Regions from separate parts of the Homo sapiens genome. Here region 1 is linked to region 2. Evidence: fine-mapped expression QTL. A gene starts in region 2. The other region holds a variant in brackets. All regions are shown on one strand. Distances are between the middles of the regions.

Region 1 (12,521 bases), 200 kb after region 2:
AAACAAACAAACCCAGGCCGGGCACGGTGGCTTACACCTATAATCCCAGCACTTTGGGAGGCTGAGGCGGGGAGATCACGAGGTCAGGAGACTGAGACCATCCTGGCTAACATGGTGAAACCCCGTCTCTACTAAAAATACAAAAAAATTAGCCGGGCATGGTGGCGGGCGTCTGTAGTCCCAGCTACTCGGGAGGCTGAGGCAGGAGAATGGTGTGAACCCGGGAGGCAGAGCTTGCAGTGAGCCGAGATCACGCCACTGCACTCCAGCCTGGGTGACACAGTGAGACTCCATCTCAAAAAACAAACAAAAAACACCAAACCCAAAACTTTCTATTTGCGAGGGGGCTTCAATTTTCACAAAAAGTGTAGATTCTTGCCCTCTTCCTAGTCAAATAGGGACAGATGGTTAGGAATGTGTTAGGGGAATGTTTTATTTCTTTGCTTCTGTGCTCACCCACTGAAGGTATTGAGTTCTGGGATTTCTGACTTTATGCAGGGGTCTCTGGTCAGAACTCTTCCTCCAGCCCAGCTCCCCTCTTACTTTGGTCATTTGTACCCAGCATAGTTCAGTGTAACTGTGGTTCTAGGCGACTGGAAACCAGCAGAAGCCTTCAGGACAAAATTCAGCTCACTCATACAGGATTTTGATTCCAATGGAATTTCTGCCCTCTCATTGTTTTCCTTATTTTATTGCTATCTCAGTAGAACTTTAAATAAATAAATAAAGCTAAAATTATTTTATTTGCCATTTTTATATGTAATGATCTCGGAGGGATTCTTGAACAGATGTGGTCTACAGTCTACAGCTAACATGTAGCTGCCTGCTTTCACTGTGTTCACTCTTCAGATTAATAAAATGAAAAGCAATGCTGATAATAGTGGTTTCTTTTCTTTCTGCTTTCTCCAGTAATTAGCTTATGGGGGACACTCAGAGGACAGGATTTAGGATCAGCAGACCTGGGTCTGCCTCCCATCTCCACTGCTAAGAGTTGAATCAGTCCATGCAGGCCACTCCCCATCCTCAGCCTTTTCTTCTGTCAAATGAACAATATAATCCCCTAGTTTTAGGGAATTTTGAGGAATACATCAGATTACCAAATCGTGAGTTCCTTGAGCTGATAAAGAGTGAGCACTTACTGTGTGTAAGGCAACTTTCCTAAGTGCTAGGGATACAAAAGTGAACAAAACACACAAAAAATGTGTCTGTGTGTGTGTGGGGGTTGGTGTGGATGTCCACAGGCATACATGTGTGGTAGCAGACAATAATATAAGAAAAATAAAGTAAAATATATAGTGTTTTAGGTGGTAGTAATTCCTATGTCAAACAACAGCGCCGACGAAGTAGAGGGGATAGGAATGCGTGTGTATGCCTGTGTGGGCACGTTCGCTACCTCTGCATCCCAGGCACCTAGACACGATCTGGCTCAGAGGGGAAGCTCAAAGAATGTTTGATGGATGAATTAACACTCATAGGACACTTACTACCATGCCTGGCGAATAACAGTAGCTTTTGGTTTTAGAATGGATGCAGTTGCTATTGGGCTCCCCTCTTTATGTCCAGTTGATGCAAGTAGGTTAGGGGGTCTCTAGAGGCTCACAAAGCTGTGCTTGGCTCAGAAGTTATCCAGATAAAAACTAGTATAGGAATCCAACTCCCCTCCTCCCTCCATCTTTCACCCCTGCAAATCTGGTGAGCTCCATGAAGCTTTCCTCCCCAGGTGACGTTGTTGCTGCTGTACTTAAGGGACAGCACAGGCCACCTGGGTGTGGGACAGAGCTGACACCTTCCTGTCTGGGCTCTTCCAGCCTTCACTCTAGAACGAAGCGGGAAGCCTCAGGTCCAAGGGGAGAGCCGCCGCAAAGGCCGCGTTGAACGCCGAGGTGCACGCGCAGGTACTGGCTAAGTGCGCGCCAGGGTGCTCGGGAGGGGGCGGGTGCGGGCCGCACTGCCGGGCGGGGTGCGCGAGTGAGGAGGGCGGGGTGCGCGAGAGAGGAGGGCGGGGTGCGCGAGTGAGGAGGGCGGGGTGCGCGAGTGAGGAGGGCGGGGTGCGCGAGTGAGGAGGGCGGGGGAGTGCGCGAGTGAGGAGGGCGGGGTGCGCGAGTGAGGAGGGCGGGGTGCGCGAGTGAGGAGGGCGGGGTGCGCGAGTGAGGAGGGCGGGGTGCGCGAGTGAGGAGGGCGGGGGAGTGCGCGAGTGAGGAGGGCGGGGGAGTGCGCGAGTGAGGAGGGCGGGGTGCGCGAGTGAGGAGGGAGGGGTGCGCGAGTGAGGAGGGCGGGGGAGTGCGCGAGTGAGGAGGGCGGGGGAGTGCGCGAGTGAGGAGGGCGGGGGAGTGCGCGAGTGAGGAGGGCGGGGGAGTGCGCGAGTGAGGAGGGCGGGGGAGTGCGCGAGTGAGGAGGGCGGGGGAGTGCGCGAGTGAGGAGGGAGGGGTGCGCGAGTGAGGAGGGCGGGGGAGTGCGCGAGAGAGGAGGGCGGGGTGCGCGAGTGAGGAGGGCGGGGGAGTGCGCGAGTGAGGAGGGCGGGGTGCGCGAGTGAGGAGGGCGGGGGAGTGCGCGAGTGAGGAGGGCGGGGGAGTGCGCGAGTGAGGAGGGCGGGGGAGTGCGCGAGTGAGGAGGGCGGGGGAGTGCGCGAGTGAGGAGGGAGGGGTGCGCGAGTGAGGAGGGCGGGGGAGTGCGCGAGTGAGGAGGGCGGGGGAGTGCGCGAGTGAGGAGGGCGGGGTGCGCGAGAGAGGAGGGCGGGGTGCGCGAGTGAGGAGGGCGGGGGAGTGCGCGAGTGAGGAGGGCGGGGTGCGCGAGTGAGGAGGGCGGGGGAGTGCGCGAGTGAGGAGGGCGGGGGAGTGCGCGAGTGAGGAGGGCGGGGTGCGCGAGTGAGGAGGGCGGGGGAGTGCGCGAGTGAGGAGGGCGGGGGAGTGCGCGAGTGAGGAGGGCGGGGTGCGCGAGTGAGGAGGGCGGGGGAGTGCGCGAGTGAGGAGGGCGGGGGAGTGCGCGAGTGAGGAGGGCGGGGTGCGCGAGAGAGGAGGGCGGGGTGCGCGAGTGAGGAGGGCGGGGGAGTGCGCGAGTGAGGAGGGCGGGGTGCGCGAGAGAGGAGGGCGGGGTGCGCGAGTGAGGAGGGCGGGGGAGTGCGCGAGTGAGGAGGGCGGGGTGCGCGAGTGAGGAGGGCGGGGGAGTGCGCGAGTGAGGAGGGCGGGGTGCGCGAGTGAGGAGGGCGGGGTGCGCGAGTGAGGAGGGCGGGGGAGTGCGCGAGTGAGGAGGGCGGGGGAGTGCGCGAGTGAGGAGGGCGGGGGAGTGCGCGAGTGAGGAGGGCGGGGGAGTGCGCGAGTGAGGAGGGAGGGGTGCGCGAGTGAGGAGGGCGGGGGAGTGCGCGAGTGAGGAGGGCGGGGTGCGCGAGTGAGGAGGGCGGGGTGCGCGAGAGAGGAGGGCGGGGTGCGCGAGTGAGGAGGGCGGGGGAGTGCGCGAGTGAGGAGGGCGGGGTGCGCGAGAGAGGAGGGCGGGGTGCGCGAGTGAGGAGGGCGGGGGAGTGCGCGAGTGAGGAGGGCGGGGTGCGCGAGTGAGGAGGGCGGGGGAGTGCGCGAGTGAGGAGGGCGGGGGAGTGCGCGAGTGAGGAGGGCGGGGGAGTGCGCGAGTGAGGAGGGCGGGGGAGTGCGCGAGTGAGGAGGGAGGGGTGCGCGAGTGAGGAGGGCGGGGGAGTGCGCGAGTGAGGAGGGCGGGGGAGTGCGCGAGTGAGGAGGGCGGGGGAGTGCGCGAGTGAGGAGGGCGGGGGAGTGCGCGAGTGAGGAGGGCGGGGTGCGCGAGTGAGGAGGGCGGGGTGCGCGAGTGAGGAGGGCGGGGTGCGCGAGTGAGGAGGGCGGGGTGCGCGAGTGAGGAGGGCGGGGGAGTGCGCGAGTGAGGAGGGCGGGGGAGTGCGCGAGTGAGGAGGGCGGGGGAGTGCGCGAGTGAGGAGGGCGGGGTGCGCGAGTGAGGAGGGCGGGGTGCGCGAGTGAGGAGGGCGGGGTGCGCGAGTGAGGAGGGCGGGGTGCGCGAGCGAGGGCGTCCGGCCGGCAGGTGGCACTGTGGCGTCGCCGTGGGCCGAGCCTGGCGAAGCGCTGCTCGCCCGAGATCGCGCAGCTTGGTGAGTGGCAGCGCCTGGCTTTATACTCGCGTCTCGGACACCGATGGTCATCTTCCCACGTCCGTGACTCAGTGGCCTTCCAATGCAGGCTGCGGCCTCTCAGCCCAGAAGGCCCTGGGTTCTGGTACAGGCCTTCCTTGTGGCAGACGGAAGGAAGGCTGACAAAGGGAGTTCACCGGGTTTGCCTGACTTGCCACGCTCTTCTCTCTCCGTGCCAACTTTAACCTGGGAAGCCACACATACCTCTAGGGCCTCTGATATCTTCAGTGTCCCCAAGGCCCATGCTGCTCAGAGCCTCACGTGGCCGCAAACCCAGGTGCCAGTACTTGAGAGTTGCACCTTGAGCGGGAACTGCAGAGGGTTTTAATGGCACCAGCTCCAAACATTTCGCCCACAGCGTCTGCAGTCCTCCACTGCGGAAGGCAGAATAAACGCCCCAAGGGTGTCCACATCCTACTCCCCAGAGCCTGTGAATTTGTCCCCTTACATGGCAAAAGGGAATTACAGTTGCGGATGGAATTAAGGTAGATTAATTGCACACACAGACAGAAACACGCATTTTTGTGTGTTTTGTTCACTGTCGTATCCCTAGCACTTAGGAAAGTTGCCTTACACACAGTAAGTGCTCAGTTAATCTTTATTGACTCAAGGAACTCACAGTTTAGTAATCCGATTTATTCCTCAAAATTCCCTAAAACTAGGGGATTATATTCTCCATCTGACAGAAGAAAAGGCTGAGGATGGGGAGCTTAATGGGTAAGGAGATTAGCCTGGGTCACCCAGGTGGGCCCAATGCAATCACCTGTCCTTATAAGGAAGAGAGGCGAGAGAAAGAAAGAGAGAGAACAGAGAACAGAGAAGGCCGACAGCACCAGGAGGTCTCAGCCCGGTTTTTCTGGCTTTGGGGATGGAGGACGGGCCACGGAACAGGGCGGCCTCTGCCTAGCAGCTGGAAAAGGTAAGGGACTAGGTTCTCCCAACGAACCTCCGGAAAGAAACGCAGCCCTGCCAGCAGCTTCATTTCAGCTCAGTGAGACCTCTTTTTACTCTTTCGACCTCCAGGACTGTAAGATCATAAACGTGTGTTGTTGGAAGCCAGCAAGTTTGTGGTAATTTGTCACAGCAGTCGTGGGCCCACTAAGACACCTGTCGTGGGCCTCGTGTCCAGAGGCCTCAGCTGAAATGCACTGGGGGCCTGGTGGTGTGTGTTAGGTCCACTTGGCTTGCTGTGTTGTTCAAGTCCTCTCATTTCCTTTCTTATCTTCTGTCTGGTTGTTCTTTCCATTATTGAAAGTGGGGGACTGAGGTCTCCGACGATTATTGTAGAACTACTTTTCCCTCCAATTCGCTCCCTTTCTGCTTTGCATATTCTGTTAAGTGCTAAATGTTTATAACTACTTATTCTTGCTGTATTGAATCTCTTCTCAATATATAATGTTCTTTGTCTCTTGTAACCTTGGACAAGATACAGACTACTTAGACTATTGAAAATCCTGACAGTGTATTTGAAACATGCACGTGGACATGGTTTTATTTTTCTCAGTTACTGCTTTCAACTGTGTGCTGATTGAAACTCCTTTCCCCTGGATAGAAGACCTATTAAAATAACCCAACTTTATTCACTAACTTGTCAACTACTTTTGGTCAGTCAGAATTTTGTCTTTGGCCAGAGTTAATCAGCTAACCCGTTGTCCCCAGATCATCAGTGCAGCTTCACCTGGGTACTTCTTATAAATGCAAATTCTCAGGCCCTGCCCCAGAAACTCTGGAGGTGGCCCTGCAGTCTGTGTTTAAGAAGCCCTCCAGGGGATCCTCAGGTGTGATAAACTTTGAGAATCAGCGGTAACCCATCTGCAGAGGTATTTCTATTATTTCAGTAATTATATTTTTAAAATTTTACTTTCTGGAAATACTTTTTAAAATTTACCTATTTTTTCATGTATCTTGATTCTTTTTTTCTGTTTTTATTTCTCATTTTAGGTCTTTAGTAATTTTAAGCCAATTTATCTTGTAGGCTCTGTTTTGATCATTCTACTGGCTTTCCATCCCTGAAGTTTATTGACTTGGAGTTGCCAGTGTTTTGTAATTTGGGATTGTGAGCTGGTCTTAATGGGGACTTCATCTATTGGAATCTTCTGTACCTTACATGAGAGTGGGTGCCTCCAGAGTGCTTTTGGGTTTGCTTCAGCCAGGTGCTTGGCGTTATCACCAGCCCAGGACTGCTTTGCATACCAATGTTTTGACCTGGGGATTTTCTGGCCCATGCATGTCATATACAGCCTAATCCCATCACATGAGTATGGGCCTGTGATGACAAATTGATAGGAGAATCATTTTCCCTACT[C/T]AGAGCCCAGGCCAGGTCTAATATCCCTGACATAACTGCCAGTGGGGGAACTTTCTCTAGATGATGATTACTGAGAGTGCATCCTGCCCTTGAAGGACCCCTCATTTATGAGTGTTGTGGGGCAGGTCCAAGGCTTCCTCTCCAATTCCTCACAGCATTAAAACCCAAGTCCCTAGGCCAGGGATGGTGGCACACGCCTGTAATCCTGGCACTTTGGGAGGCCAAGTTGGGTGGATCACATGAGGCCAGGAGTTCAAGACCAGCCTGGTCAACATGGCAAAACCCCATTTCTACTAAAAATAAATATAAAAACTAGCCAGGCATAGTGATGCACATCTGTAATCCCAGCTACTCGGGAGGCTGAAGCATGAGAATCACTTGAACCCGGGAGGTGGAGGTTGCAGTGAGCTGAGATTGTGCCACTGCACTCCAACCTGGGTGGCAGAGTGAGACTCTGTCTCGAAAAGCAAAACAAAACAATCCAAGCCCCTGAGTTAGTGAGAGGATGCCAGCCCTGGTGGGTGGGGAGATCATGAAGTTGTATACCTAATTGTTGGTTCCCAGTTCATCTTTTGGCCTTTACTTTCTGTTGAACTCTGCATTTAGAGTCTGTTCTATTGCACCAAGCAATTCTGAGCATATTGCGGTGGGTGTTGCCTTTCAGGTTACCTAGTTTCTCATATTGCTGTAAATAGAAGTCCCCTGATAGCTCATTTTGAAACGTCAATCTCTCTTCCCTTCTCCACCTAGTGCAGGCTAAACCTAGTGTTTCCATAGATGGAGAGTGGGGTAGGGGCAGTTGCACATGACTCTCCTGCTTCTTGGCACTTGCTGTTCTAATGTTGGGGTCAGGAAGAGGGGCTGGCAAGGCATGACTGTGGTGAGCTCTCCTCTTGCTTTTCGGGTGGTAACTGCTGGTCCAGCTTATTGTCCACAGCTCTGCATAGGTAGGAGGTGACCAGAAACCCTAGGCATGATGAGGTTCAGCTGCCCCTGTGGACCCCCAGATGGTGGCCTCATGGTGCGTTCTGGTGCACAGGCCTTCTGCTCCATGACGTGACCCCGTAGCCCCGGTCTCCTCTGCCGTTCAGGGCCTTCAGCCTGGGCCCTAGACACGCATGCCACATCCATCTTCTCCCCTCTTGGAACCCGAGGACTCAAAGCTCTACTGGCATCCCCTCTCCTCTGTCCTCATTTCCTGTTTCCCTGGCTACAGGAACACCTGACGATGCCCATTTGCAGCAAACCAACCATGGCTCAGAATTCCTCCAAGCTCAGTCATGCTCTGAGGGCATGTGAAAAGAATGCCCTGCAGAGGAGGAGAGATTTGTTTGTGGCCTTGATGTCATTTGAGATTCTGAGTGTCCAACTGGGGAAATCAACGTTTCCAGGTGGAAACAAAGGGGGCTGCAGAAAGCTGCCCACCCAAGCCAAGGGTCCCTGTTTTGCTGAGTCTAGCGAGGGACTTCCTGTCCCCACTGCTCCACTCCCTCCTCCAGCCCAACTCTCCCTGAGGCAGATGGCAGCAGAGAGAGGAGCAGGGGTTTCCAGGTCAGGCGAGAGTCCTCAGTGGGAGCCTGCTGGGAGGTGGTTTTCTGCCTGAAAGCAGAAGTGGTGGTGTGACAGTCCGTGGACACCAGAGTAGGGACAGAAAAATTGTCTCAGACCCCATCTACAATAAAAATGTATACAAAGGCCTCCCATCCTAGGGGCAGGTATGTGCCTAGAAAGTACCCCTTCTGGCTCTGCCAACAGCTGTACCAGCTTCATTTGCTGGAGGTGAAGAGGCGGCCACATGACCCTGGACTGGCCGGCGTGGTGGGGTCGGCACGCAGGTCTTGACTGCAGCAAGTTCTATGTGTTTGTGCACAATTAGCCAGATAGCCTCTCCTCTGGGGAACCAGTTCATTCCAAGCCAAGAGTAGATGAGTGGGCCCTGTGCCAGGGAGACAAATGACTGGTGACACCGTGGTGTTTCACTGAAGCTCTGCTGGGGGACCCATCACAGCCTCTGCCTGAGCTGCTGGCTTTCAAGTGCCCTGGGGCTGAGCCCTGGGAATATCCTTGTTTATCTGCAGTTGCTGGCCTGGCTCCTCTTCCCCTTTCTCTATTCCTCCCTCTCTTCTCTGGGGAGCAAGCGGCCCACCCCCACCCCTGTACCACTGGGTCCTGAATGTCCAAAAAGCCAAGGAGGTTCTGGCCTCAACTCAGCCTCTCCTTGAGGCAAATCACCTCACTTGGGAGTGGGGGTTCTTCAACTTTACACATCCCGGTTACCCAGGGGGCGTGGTGAGCATCGGATGAAAAACTGGGAGGGGGAACTTGAATGCTGCTTCTGAACGCGTATCCGGGGTGAGAGCTCATCTCCCTCCTGGATCCTGTCTTCCTGCACCAAATTGCCAAGGCCAATGCTCTGCCCCTTGGGTAGGCCAGTCCACCCCCCTTCCTGTCCACCCACCCCAGATGCCAAGTCTGTGGTGGGGTGGCCCATGCTGGGGCATGAGAAGTTTGGGGGATGAGGAGGAGAACCATATCCACCAGGGAGGACCCGGGGTGAGGAAAAGATGAGACAGGATGACACTCAGGAGAGGCCGCCTTTCAGGAGATGGACCTCAGAACGATGGCTTTTCCTTGATAACTCTAGACCTTGAGCTACACTGGCCTCTCTCTGAGCCTGCGCCAGCCACAGGGATGTGAAGGTTGAGATATTCCATACGTGGTTGGCTGACAGGTAGCTGAGTACAGCCATTGTAGAGGGGGATCTCGCTCTGCTTAGTGACATTGATACCTGTATCATTCAAGTGCTAGACATTTTGTTCCTGGGCATATGTCCCAAAGACTTGCACACAAAGCGACCGAGAAGTGATTTACCACAGTATTGTTTGGGGACAGTGGAGTTAGAGGCTGGCATCCATCACTGGGGAATGGGTGAGTAAAATGAGATTGTCACATGGATGACCCACAGCCACAAACAGGGTGGACACCCATCACTGTGGCTACAGCCTTAAAAATAGCGTGAGTGAGAAAAGTAAGAAGCAGGACAAAATCTCTAACACTGCATCATTTGTAGGAACCTGAAAATACATACCTATCAATCAACTTGTCAGGTTTCTCAAGTGTGCGGAGAAAAAGAAAGATAAACATTAAATGCAACAGTAGGGATGAATGTGCAAAGGTGGGAGTGGAGAATTGGGATAAAGAGGAATAAAGTAAAGCACAGTAGGAGCAGGACCTCACATGGAGAAATTGTGCTAGCACACCATGAACTGAGCAACTGGTTGACTCTGCCCCTGAAGGAAAAGGAGCAGTTAAAGCCCTAAAGAAGTGAATGTCAGCTGCAGAGAAGGGATACGCACTATTCATCACTAAAGCATGGGCAAAACTGTGATCACAGGGCCAGCCCCTCCCTCTGCTCCCATCCACACCAACAGCACCAACTGTTGGCTAGGTCTAGAGCAGAACTCTTCCCCTTTGCCTTCTAAGAACAGACTCTGAGACGTGGTGACTGCTCCAGGGCAACCTCCCTCTTCCCAAATGACACCAGAGGATCTCTTTGAGTGGTGAAGGCTCAGCATCTTCATTAGCTCTCCGATTTAGAGATGGCCAAGCTAAAATCTACAGCACCTAGCTCAGTGCCTGGCAGAAAGTTGATCCTCAAATGATGGATGGATGAATGACCATACCTGCTTGGCAGCTGCTTAGCTTTGGTTGGGCCAGAGAAGAATCAGTCAAATGATCCCTATGGTGTGCTGAACACTGCAAAGTTGCCAGAATAAGACCCTGTGCTTGCTCTTGAGGTGTTTGCCTAGTGTTTCTCAACTAGGTTACATATGTCGTGGTCCCAAAACTTGTCTTGGCCATCTAGTATGTGCTGGGCTTTTGCTACCAGTTGGGGTAAAGAAATGAGTACAATGGGTCCTAGATACAGACATAAAACAGATAACCTGCAATATGAGGAGTGACTGAGATACGCCAAGAGTGTGGGGAGTGCAGGGAATGTAACTGGCAGGCAGTGGACCTAATGAGTGAGTCCTGAAGGTGTCAATAGCCCAAAAAACAAAATTATGAGTTAGGAAGATTTGTTCTTTTCAACTGCATATGAAAATATTTGCCAAAGAGGATCTCTACAAGTTTGAGCAGTAGCTGGTTTCTTTTTTCTTTTTCTTTCTCTCTCCCCTCGACCTTCCTTCATGGGTGATTTGGGACAGAGACAATGCCATGGGCTCACCAAATCATATTTCACTTTCCTCTCCCTGGGCACATTGGAAGACTTTTCCAGCATGACTTGTAATTAAATTGGAGCTATATGACCATAGTTTGGCCATTGTGGTGCAGGAGGAAGTAAGGTGTACAACTTTCAAGCCAGCTATAACCTCCCTTGAACCATCATCCATTCTCTCTTGCCTTTCCACAGTGACCTCAGTGGGTATATATTTACATGGCAATGTCACAAGATGAAGCTTGGATCCCAAAGTCACCACTCAGAGAAATTGCCCAGGAGAGCTAGTCAGCCAGCACTGGGTGTGATATGAGTCACTGAGATGTGGGTTTATTTGTTCCTGCAGCAAAGCCTGTTATATCCTTACTAATATGCTAGGTACACTGCTTTCCAAAGTAGCTATTTTGAGGAACCACAGCTCTTCTTAAAAAATTATGCCAATTTTATTTATTTATTTATTTGAGACAGGGTCTTGCTATGTTCCCAAGGCTGGGTTGCAGTAGCTATTCATGGATGTGATCATGGATCACTGCAGCCTGGAATTCCTGGGCTCAAGCAATCCTTTTGCCTCAGCCTCTTAAGTAGCTAGGACTGTAGGCATGTGCCACTAAATTTATTTTATTTCTTAACAGCTTTATTGAAATATAATTTACATACCATACTATTGACCCATTCAGAGTGTACAATTCAGTGGTTTTTGGCATATTCAAATTTATACCACCATTACCAGTCAATTTTATAACATTTTAGTCACCCCTAAAAGGAAACTCCATCCTTATTAGCACCCAATTCTATACCCTACTACTAGGCAACAACTAATCTTCTTTCTGTCTCTATAGATTTGCCTGTTCTGTATATTTCATATAAATGGAAGCATAAAACATATGGTCTTTGTGACTGGTTTCTTTCACTCTTATCATGTGAATGAACCTTAAAATGTTTTTCTTTCTTTCTCTCATTATTATTTTGAGACAAGGTCTCAGTCTGTCACACAGGCTGGAGTGCAATGGCGCAATCTCGGCTCACTACAACCTCTGCCTCCTGGGTTCAAGCAATTGCCTCATTCTCCCGAGTAGCTGGGATTACAGGTGCACACCACCCCACCTGGCTAATTTTTTGTTTTGTTTTGTTTTGTTTTTTGTAGAGATGGAGTTTCACCATGTTGGTCAGGCTGGTCTTGAACTCCTGATCTCATGTGATCCACCGGCCTCGGCCTCCCAAAGTGCTAGGATTACAGGCACGAGCCACCATGCCCGGCCTTGTTCTGTCATTATTATAAGCATCCTAGTGTGTGTGAAGTGGTATGTTATTGTAGTTTTGATTTGTTTTTCCCTGGTGACTAATGATTAGCATTTCCTCTACTTGTCATTTTAAAATCTTCATTGAAGAAATTCTATTTAAATCCTTTACCCATTTTTTAAATGTGGTTGTCTTTTTATTGTTGTGAGCGTTCTTTAGATGTTTTTGATGTTAGAACCTTATCAGAAATATGTCTTGCAAATACTATCAAGAAAGTTAAAATGGGAGAAAAGTATCTTTTGAAGTGAAAAGTTTTCAAGTTTTATGAAGTCCAATAGATTAATTTTTTCTTTGGTTGCTTGTGCTTCTGGTATAATAGCCAATAAACCATTATTTAATCCAAGGTCATGAAAAGGTACCTGTATTTTCAAGGAGTTTTATTACTTTGGTTCTTACATTTAAGTCTTTTTTCCATTTTGAGTTAATTTTTTGTATACGGTATAAGGTAAGGCTCTAATTCATTCTTTTGCGTGTGGATGTCCAGCTGTTCCAGCACAACATGTTGAAAACAGTATTCTTTCTCCTACTTAATGATCTTGCCACTCTTGTCAAAA
Region 2 (10,149 bases):
GCATATAAGTCTTGTTCTCTGATGAAGTTGTTGACTTTCTTGATATCTGCAACCTAGGAAGGCACGAAGATAAACATCATAAAATATGCGGAGCTCCTTAAAAATAACTTTCCAAAAAGTGGCTCTTAATCTTTCTGGGTGATGATTCAAGCCCACTTCACTGACGAATCTGATGAAGACTGGAAAACTGCAGCTGTACACAAAGTTAGTTTAGGCTGAAATTTTGTTTTTTTGGCTTTCACTCAACCTCAATATATAGTTTAGTAATCAGATATTCCTAAAGATTTACAGGTTTGAACAATTTAAGATCAGTTTTGAAAAACAGATCTTTCTTAAACTGTTTAAAGTGTGACTGCAACAAATCGCTTTGGGCGAAACCACCATGGCACTGAAAGGAATGTTGCAGCCTTTTCCACCTTTCACTTTTGAGGCAATAGTGCCCCCATCTGCCTGCCTTCCCCCTCATGCCAGAACTCAGTGGCTGCCAGATGTTAGCATTCACCAAACACACAGCCTCAGCCAGCTCTGCAGACACACTCAAAATCCAGTTTACCTGTAATAAAGTTGACAGATATGCCCTCGGCATTTTCTTTCCCAGAAACACTGTGGGGCATGTAAACTTATTAAATAAAAGTGACTTACAGTTACTGTACTTAACTGTCAGGAAAAAGGAATAATGCTGTGAGTTTTATCAAGTAACAAAGTTCATGACAAACTCCTCTCATAATCAAACACGAAGATTTAAGAAGCAGGGAGAATGTAAGTCAAAGGGTAACCCCTCCCTCAAACTAATGTTTGAAAACTTTCCAAAAGCATCAGAGATGAACTCCAAACTTTTAACACTTAAGTCCACTTAAACTAGAAAGTGAATACAGCCAACAGATCTCAATCAAATCAATCATTTCCATTATTATTCAGCAACTGCTGTTATTGTAACTGATTTGGGGTAGGGGACATTTTTAATTCACTATGTCCTGAATCTAATGCATGAGACCCTTGAGATCTTTCTGTCTCTGCCTTCAATAAATTAAGAGCAAATTTATTTACTTCAAATAGGAAAACTGATCACTTATCAAAGGCTTTATATATTCTTTACGGATTTAGACATCACCATACCAAGAAGCCTACTCCATCTATTCCGGTCTTTGTAGGACAGGCTTCATTTTTCAGCCCATGTTCTGTAAGCCACACAGTATGCCTGCAGAAGCTGCTTATCGGAGCCAAATATAATTGTCAGTACAATTTAAAGACCACTATGTGTCCCCGGAGACCAACCTGTTTATTTCCCTGAAAGACCGCAACACCCCACACAACATGTTTCAGACATTTGGACCTTGTTAGATAAGACACTTGTAGGAGAAAGAGATTTCTTAAATTAAGTAGCTTATATACCCCTAGAGAAGGCCATACAAATCTGTAGCACAGTGTTAGCAAAGTGAAACAGTTGCAATCTAGGAGAAAATGCAGCAATTCTAGAAATACTTTCCTACTTACTTTGCCATTGTTAATCACTCTGAATGCTGAAAACATAATTAGAGAAAAACAGGGTTATATAGATACACAGCATACAAAAGACCATGCAGTTCTAAACGAGAGAAGGTAAAACTTTACCAAAAGTCAAGTAAGCTACCACCAAGAAAGGTTCAGAAAAATAAGAGCAGCGAGAAAAGCAAGCATACCATAGAAATCCGGAATTAAATTCTGCCTGGTATCTCCAGCCCCATTAGGTCTAAAATAAAATGTGCTCGAAAGAAGAAAAAAGGTTTCAGAATTTCAGTGTGGAGAAAACAGGAAAAGGAGAAGTTCCCTGCAGAGAAAGAAATGCGCTAACCCTCCCTCTTTGGGGGCCAGGGTTGGGAACTAAAGGTACTCCCACCTGCATTCCAATTCTGGCTAAATAGGGGAGTCCTTGGCTGCTACAGCAGGCCTCTCCTGACGGCCTGGCAGGGTTAAGAAGGGCGGCAAGGGCACCCACCCTGCAGTGAGTTCCCCGTGTTCCTTGAAACGGAGCGGGGCAGGGCCCCTGAGGGGTGTCTTACTTTGCAGCCATACTGCAGCGCCAGCTTGTTGAGGCTGTCCTCCTGGGCCAGCTCCCGCTGCAGCAGCACCACGTCACCTGCTCCCGCCTGGGGAGGCTGGTGGACACCGCTCTTGTGGCGCTCCTTGCCCCGGGGCCGCAAAACCACACGGTGAGACTCTTCTTCAGAAGAGTCCCCCGAGTCCCCACTGCCATTCTTAAACATGTATACGTGGCTGGTCGGAGTCCCACACACAACAGCTGGGCCTTGGAAGGTCTTGGTTAACAATTCCTCGTGCCTCATTTTCTTCACTGAAAATCAAGCCGGAGGGTTAATTCCACAGAAGACATAATCATCCCTCCACCGCCTCGTTTAAAGAGAAGTGTCTTGTTAGAGAGTATTCCTTTTCCTAATCGCTGCAAATACTCAGCATACATCATCAACAGAAAAAAAAGAATGTGCTTATGCTGGCTGAGATGGAAGAAGATAGGCAGAATAAAAACCCTTTGTTTTTTCTAATCGCATACGTTTTGTGCAGAAAACGAACCCCGCCCCTGTTCCTCATCCATAGCTGTCTCCCCTAAACCCACATCTGTAAAGAAACAACTACTTTTGCTCTCAGAGTAGTAAGTTGAGATCCTTGCAATGGCAAGTAAGGGCTGCCGCCAGCCTCCGCGCACTCAGAATCTTCAACTCAGAAGCTTTGCACAATAATTTTGTATTCAATATTTTACACATTGCAAAGTATCTTCACTAAGAAGGTCAGCGCTAAGGACTCTTGCTCAGAACTGTGGGGCTAAACTGCTCTTACTTTGACACAGTTTAACTCACAGTATGTGGGGCAAGCTACGGGGAGAACTCATGCCTGTCAGCCGGAGAAAAGCGTCCAGTTTGCTCACGGGTCACTTTGCATTCATTACATCCCCATTGTCTGGTTTTTATTTTCCCCTTGAGTCAACAGCCAAAGCCGCAAGACCCCTGTTCCTCTCTCCAGATTGTTCGCGTGAGATTCCAGAAACGAAATCTCAAACACGCGGGCTGACAACTTCAGAAAAAGGTGGCTTCGGAGCCACAGGGGAGCAGCCCGTACGGGGACAGCCTGCGGCCCCAGCTCGACCCCCTACTCCCCGCCCACGCCTTCGAGGGTCACAGGCCCACACCCCGCTCCGCGCGCTCCTGAGCCTGCCCGGAGGCGGGAGGCGGCCGGCGGTCCTCGGGGGGTTGAGGGTCACCTGCAGGACCACGGCGGCAGCCCGGGGACGGGGCCAGCCTTCGCGTCCGAGCTCAGGGGCGGCGGCAGCAGCTCCAGGCCCGCTTCCCTCCAAGTCCCTTCTGCGAAAAGATGGGGCACCTCAACAAGAGCTGACAGGAAAATGGGGAGCGGCCCGGCCCCAGGGCTCCACGGCTCCACGGGCGGGGCCCTAACATTCCAGAGGGCAGAACCTCTGACCTCTGACCCCCAACCCTAGCCACCTGGGGCCAGCCCACGACAGTCGCGGTCACCGCCCCTCCAGCTGGAGCGTCCCCCTAGGAGCCCGGGGAGGGGCGGCCCGCCCGCGAACCCTCGAGCGAGGCCAGGTCGCCGTACCGCCATGAGCCCGCGCGGCTCCCTAGCCAGACCGCGGCCCCCTCGTCCAGGCCCCGGTACCTCAGCGCCCAGGCTCCGCCGCGACCGGCGACCGGCGACTCGCGACCCGCGACCCGCGACCCGCAGCTGCCACCGCGCCTGCGGATTGGCTACGAACATCAGCAGGGCCCCCCTGGGGGCGGGACTGGGGAGGCAGCCAATGAAGTCAGCGCTGGGCGGGCACTGGAGCGAGCCTGGCTGCGCGGAGAGCTCATCCCGGGACCACAGGGCCCGGGGCGGGGCTCGGGGCGGGGCTCGGGGCGGGGCTCGACAGGGTTCCACACCCCGGAAGTGGCCCTCGCCCCGCCCACCCGCCTACCAGGTCTACCCGCGCGGGCCCTGGCTTGTTTTCGCGTCTGTTCGGAGTAATAAGGCACCTCAGCTCCTCCCTCCCAAAGTGCTTGGCTTTCTGCTGAGCCGCAGCTTTCTCGCCCGTAAAGAGGCCTTTGACCCCACTTGTGGGTAATGATCTGTAGCTGTGACTCGGGGTGGATTCCAGTAGCGTGGGGTCCCCTGAGCCCTCCTGCGGGGAAGGGCTGGGCGCAGATGGGCGAGGGGTCTTTCTGCGGCGGGATCTGCGCTCCTGGGCCTTTGAGGGCCGCACCAGGGGAGGCATTGCCCCACCCCGAGAAGAAAACAGAAATCCACGAGTGTAAAACATGGATGCGGACAACAGGGACCAAGAAAACTTAAGTCGTGTTTATCAAATGTCAGGTGGCCGAGGATTTCTTAAGATGAAAAGTGGTGGAAGAATTCTCACACACTGGCCGGGCGCGGTGGCTCACGCCCGTAATCCCAGCACTTTGGGAGGCCGAGGCTGGTGGATCACGAGGTCAGGAGTTCGAGACCAGCCTGGCCAAGATGGTGAAACCCCGTCTCTACTAAAAAAATAAAAATAAAAAAAAATAAAAAAGTTAGCCGGGCATGGTGGCGGGCGCCTGTAATCCCAGCTACTCAGGAGGCTGAGACAGAGGATTGCTTGAACCCGGAGGCGGAGGTTGCAGTGAGCCGAGATCGTGCCACTGCACTCCAGCCTGGGCAACAGAGGGAGACTCCATCTCAAAAAAAAACAAAAACAAAAACCTCACACACTAAGGCACAAAGTTCAGAGCTTCTACTTAAAAAGGAAAACCAAAATTAAAAAGCAGATAACCTAGGGAAAATAAACTGAACACAACAAAGGATTAAAATCCTTCGCTGAGAGAGACTTCATATGAATAGGAAAGATGCTAAGACCTCAGCAGGTCTGAGGGAGACCTCAGAGAGACAGGAGCAGATAATTCAGCAAACAATGCAAATGGTCAACAGGTTGAAAATGTTTTTAACCCTCACTTGCAATCAGATTAAACAACAAAGCAAACATTAAAACAAGATCTCACAAACCTTTTCCCACTAATAGGATTTGACTGTGTCCACACCCAAAACTCATCTTGAATTGTAGCTCCCACAGTTTCCACCTGTTGTGGGAGGGACCTGGTGGGAGGTGATTGAATCATGGGAGCAGGTGTTTTCTGTGCTGTTCTCCAGATAGCGAATGAGTCTCACTAGATTTGATGGTTTTATAAAGGGAAGTTGCCCTGCACAAGTTCTTTTCTTCTATCTGCTGCCATGTGAGATGCACCTTTCACCTTCAGCCATTATTGTGAGGCCTCCCCAGCCAGGTGGAACTGTGAGTCCATTAAACCTCTTTCTTTTGCCCAGTCTCGGGTATGTGTTTATCAGCAGGATGAAAACGGACTAATACACCCACTTAAACTAAAAGTCAAATTGTTAATCTTCGTGGACAAAGCCCAAAATGGTCTGGACTCCAGGACTTACCCTCCCCTAACCCCCAGGGTTCTCAAGACTCTGGCCTTGGAATGAGAGTGACATCATCAGCTTCCCTGGTTCTGATGTTTTTGGACCTGCACTGAACCATATTATCTGCATCCCAGGGTCTCCAGCTTGCAGACCCACCTGTCCCGGGACTTTCAGTCTCCTTAATTGTGTGAGCCAAGTCTAATCTCCTCTCTCTCACTCACTCACTTTGTGTCTCTCTCTATAGGTAGAAATAGATATATAGATAGATAGACAGATATCTCCTATTGGTAGGTAGGTAGGTAGATAGATAGATAGATAGATAGATAGATAGATAGATAGATAGATTAGATAGCTCCTATCAGTTCTGTCTCTCTGGAGGACTTGACTCTGTATCTGTAGATAGGTAGATATCTCCTATCGGTTCTGTCTCTCTGGAGGACCTGACTCTGTATCTGTAGATAGATAGGTATCTCCTATTGGTTCTGTCTCTCTGGAGAACCTAATACAGGCTTCAAGGCTCCTTCTCTCAAGCTGCTTGCATTACTGGACTGTCTGAGCCTCAGGCCTCAAAGTAAGTCATCTTCTCAGTGAGTTCTCCCCTGTCCAGCGGGTATATGTAGGTGCTCCCTTAGTGCTCTGTGAGAACACGGTTTCTTCATAGTACTTCCTAGTTCATTTACTTGTCATTTATTGCCAGAATACTACTGTCCCCATACAACTTCCAAGGCCCAGCTGAGTGGCGGCGTCTAGAGGTGCTCATTCAATGTGGGCTCATTAGGAGAGCTGTTCTGATGACCTGACCCAGGATACGGGAAGGCAAACTAAAATTAAAAAGCATATTATCTGGGGAAAATAAATGCATCCCGACAAAGGATTAAAATCCTGAGTTGAGAGCACCAAAATCCAAATCCTAGTGTGTCTATTCCAGAGGCCTGGCTCTCAGCCACCAGCTGTACTTCGGGCCCAAGGCACCTGGCCATGGCCCGGTGGGTTTGGCAAATCCAGGAGTCAGAATTTCAAAGTGTGACTAATGGCAAGAAAAGTCACAACAGAATTTGTAAAGCTGGATTAGTATTGCTGCTTTCTGATCAGTTATGGTTGTTTCATTCATTCAGTGTGTCCAGTACAAAATAAATCCAGACTTAGGATAAAGTTTATTCCAAAAGATTATTGCAAGGTGGTGGGAGGGACTATTGCAATGGGGAGAACTTCTGACCATAAGCTCTGTAACATCTCAAGAGTTAGACAGAAAGTTCTCCTTTCACAGCGAAGTAACAAAGCTAGAAAGAGCACGGTATGGGGAAGCGGGATGAAAGGGTGGTGGGATCTGGTAGTAGATCAGAGAATGTTCTACCCTGGGGTCAGCCAAGTCTCAGGAAGAGCTTATGCTGGCTCAGGTTGTGGTGGAGTCAAGGTTTATTCAGTGGGCTAGGGGAAGAGAGAAGCCTAATCAAAGTTTGGTTAGCAAGCATTTTGTTCCAATTGATTACTGGGGTCAAGCAGTTTCACTAATTATTTATGAGATAAAAGGAATTTGGAGGGTCTGGGGCTGGCCTTGTCATAGGTAAACCAGGGTGGCATTTGTGGGTCTTACCTAAGTCATATGGAGAAGGGAGTTCTTTGTAGTAGGTGTTTTCCAGAAGACAAAGGGTGGAGGAATTTCTTAAACCCCACTGTTTTCCAGGAGCACAAGGTTTGGGTAGAGTTCAGCACTGTCAAGCTTATGTCTGTGGCACTCCTTCCGTGTGCTGGGGCACAGTGGCGGACAAAGCTATAAGGTCAACTTTGATTGGCTGTATAAGGCTGATAAGGCCTCATAGCCTTACAATTGCCAGAAGGAAGATGGAAAATCAAAGACATACACAGAAAAGGTCATTACAGATGGTGCAAGATCTTCCAAAGAAACAAGGTCATGCATGTGAGCAAAAATTATATAAACTTTGTAAAGGCAAAAGAATGGCTGTGTCCTTTCAAGGTCATATGAGGACTTGGCCGGCTGGACTGCCCAGGAATTAAGTGATTGTCAAGGCAGCAGTTCTCCAAGTGTGTTCTAGGGATCCCGGAGTCTGTGATGTCCAAACGATGTTCATAGTAATGCCAACATTATTTGCCTTTTGCATTTCACTTTCTCCTGATGTACAATAATTTAGCTAATGTTTATTGAGTCCTTACTGAGTACAACACCCGTGTGAGGTGGGAACTATTATAATCCTCAACTTACAGTTGGAAAAACTCACTAGGGGAGAAATTGCAAGTTTGCCACCTAATATCAATTCTCATCTTTTCCTTTAGAAAGAGAACCCCAACATTATTGGGGGCATCAGCATGCCAAGCCAAGACCACATATCAGCCCTCCTTGCAGTGGGTTGTACGCATGTGAATAAGTTCTAGACAATGAGGTCAAAGAAGAAAATGTGAGCGGGACTACTGAAGAAGTCCTTAAAAGGGGGAGATCTGGAAAAGCTCTGAAATGTGAGTGCCTTTTTTTTATTCTCCCTGCCTCTCTGCTGCCTGGAATAAAGATGTGATGGCCAGAGCACATGCAGTCATCTTGGACCATGAGGTGGAATCCATGTACTAAGTAAGGATGGCAGAGCAGAATGGTGGATGGGGTGTAAAAGAGAAATAAATGTCCTCATGTTTAAGATGCTGTTAGGATCTCTATCACTAGCAGCTGAATAAATTCCTAATTTATATGCTTATGCACAAAGATGAAGTTACTTGCTCAAGATGTCATAGCTAGTAAGTACAGGAGACAGGATAAAACCCCAGACTGTGGCTCCATAGCCCCAATCTTGTGAAAACTTCTGAGCAGAGCCCATTTTTGCTTTCACTGCTGACTCAGCCCCACCCAGGAAGCCTGTTCACCTGGTCAACATTTTCCCCAGAAACATCCCCAAGTTCTCTCCCCAGGCCTTGGCTTGACTGGCTGAGTTATAGTATCTCTGGCCTGAGTTTCCTGAGGCCAGATGAGAAGTGTTAAGAGTGACATGACTTGTCTACTGAAGTGTGCCAAGGTCATGTCCACCAAGGACTCCACTACTGTGGCCCCAAGAAAGCTGGGACTAAACCTGCACAAGCAGACATGCCGCCCAGGTGCCAAAGCTGTGTCACCTCATGCCTGTGCCCGACCTCCCTTGGAGCCCTAGCAAGGGTAGGGAGAGAAGAAAAGTAGCAGGTGCTCACTGAGTGGCTGGCTTTCACAAAATGTGTCAAAAATCCAGTGGGTGGAGAGCAGAGAACTGTGTTATCAAAGTCATTAGAATTTCTTAAGCTACAACTGCTCATTTTATAGAGAGGAATTTAAGACCCAGAGACGTGAGGGGACCTGCCTGAGGCTGCACAGCAGGTTAGCACGTTGGGAGATGAGGTGAGTCCAAAGCCAGCTCTGCATTCAGTGGCTGTGTGACCTTGACTGAGTCCTGTAAGCCTTCTGGACTTTGGTTTTCCACTGCCACTGTGTTGTTCCCTATGCTTGGGGTGACCATACATTCTTTCTGTCCAAAACAATCCCAGAGCATGCCTATCGTCACAGCACAATTATTAGAAACACTCCTTCCCTCCTCGTAGTGTCTGGACACACCCTACACCTCTCTGTGTGACAGTGATATGGTTTGGCTCTGTGTCCCCACCAAAATATCTTGTTGAATTGTCATTCCCAGTGTTGGGGAAGGGATCTGTTAGGAGGTGATTGGATCATGGGGGCGGATTTCCCCCATGCTCTTTTCATGATAGTGAGTGAGTTGTCATGAGATCTGGTGGTTTAAATGTGTGTGTGATGTTTTAAATATTCCCCTCACTCTCTCTCTCCTGCTGCCATATGAAGAAGGTGCTTGCTTCACCTTCTGCCATGTTTGTAAGTTTCCTGAGGCCTCCCAGTCATGCTTCCTGTTAAGCCTTCAGAACTGTGAGTCAATTATACCTCTTTTCTTCATAAATTACCCAGTCGAAGGTAGCTCTTTATAGCAGTGTAAGAACGGACTAATAGACAATTTGCCCATGGACTGTGTACCTGGCACCTGCTCCCCACGGACCCCCCAGCAGACTTTGCCAGTTCATTGCAGAGGCCCAGATGGCCGTCAGTATCCAAGACAGCCATGACCAATCAAGCAATATTGTCAGGGGAGGGGAAACTGATTTGCCATCCCTGCTCTGCAGTATCTAGTAGTCTGGATTTGGTTCCTTAAGTTGTGGGTTCTCTAATGACTCAGGAAAATCCACTGGTTATTGCCAGTGTGGAATTTGCATTTCCATGAAATAGAAAGAAGAAAACTTCCTGACTTCTGCTTGTTGTCAAGTGACTGTGAGAAGTGAAGCCCTTGGAAGAAACATGGCTATGAGTGTGAGAGCTCATAGCTCCAGAGATATTGCCAACTTCAGGAATTCATGAGAAAGTAGTAGAAAGAAGAAAACAGGAAATGTATTGCATTTGGTACGGCAAAAACAATTATTGAAAGTTTAACAGGCTTATGACAAATGGGGTAAAAATGTTTGCCATCTTTGATACATTGATATCCTTAATATATAAAAGGCATACAGATCTCAATAAAAAAGCACTTTATAGAAAAATAACCAAATGATGCAAAAATTCACTAAAGAAATACATATAGGAAAAAACTGTTAACTTTACAGATAGTCAAGTAAATGGAAATTCAAAAAACTACAAGATATTCATTGTCACCTACAGACTTGGAAAAAGTCGAA

The links.
Region 1: its variant is fine-mapped to the expression of LYSMD4 in whole blood (TOPMed, PIP above 0.99).

The regions. Positions count from the first base shown.
Region 1 is chr15:99,924,454-99,936,974 of GRCh38, forward strand. No RefSeq gene overlaps it. Among named protein-coding and RNA genes, the nearest start is that of LYSMD4, 200 kb to the left of the region's middle. RefSeq lists an enhancer at 3,911-4,205 and a silencer at 3,927-3,986. The variant C/T (reference allele first, on the strand shown) is at 6,450.
Region 2 is chr15:99,729,679-99,739,827 of GRCh38, forward strand. LYSMD4 (LysM domain containing 4) reads right to left here and starts at 3,759. Exons shown (of 3, transcript NM_001284417.2): 1 at 3,667-3,759; 2 at 2,040-2,329; 3 at 1-53. The coding sequence starts at 2,321. RefSeq lists silencers at 3,209-3,318, 3,359-4,088.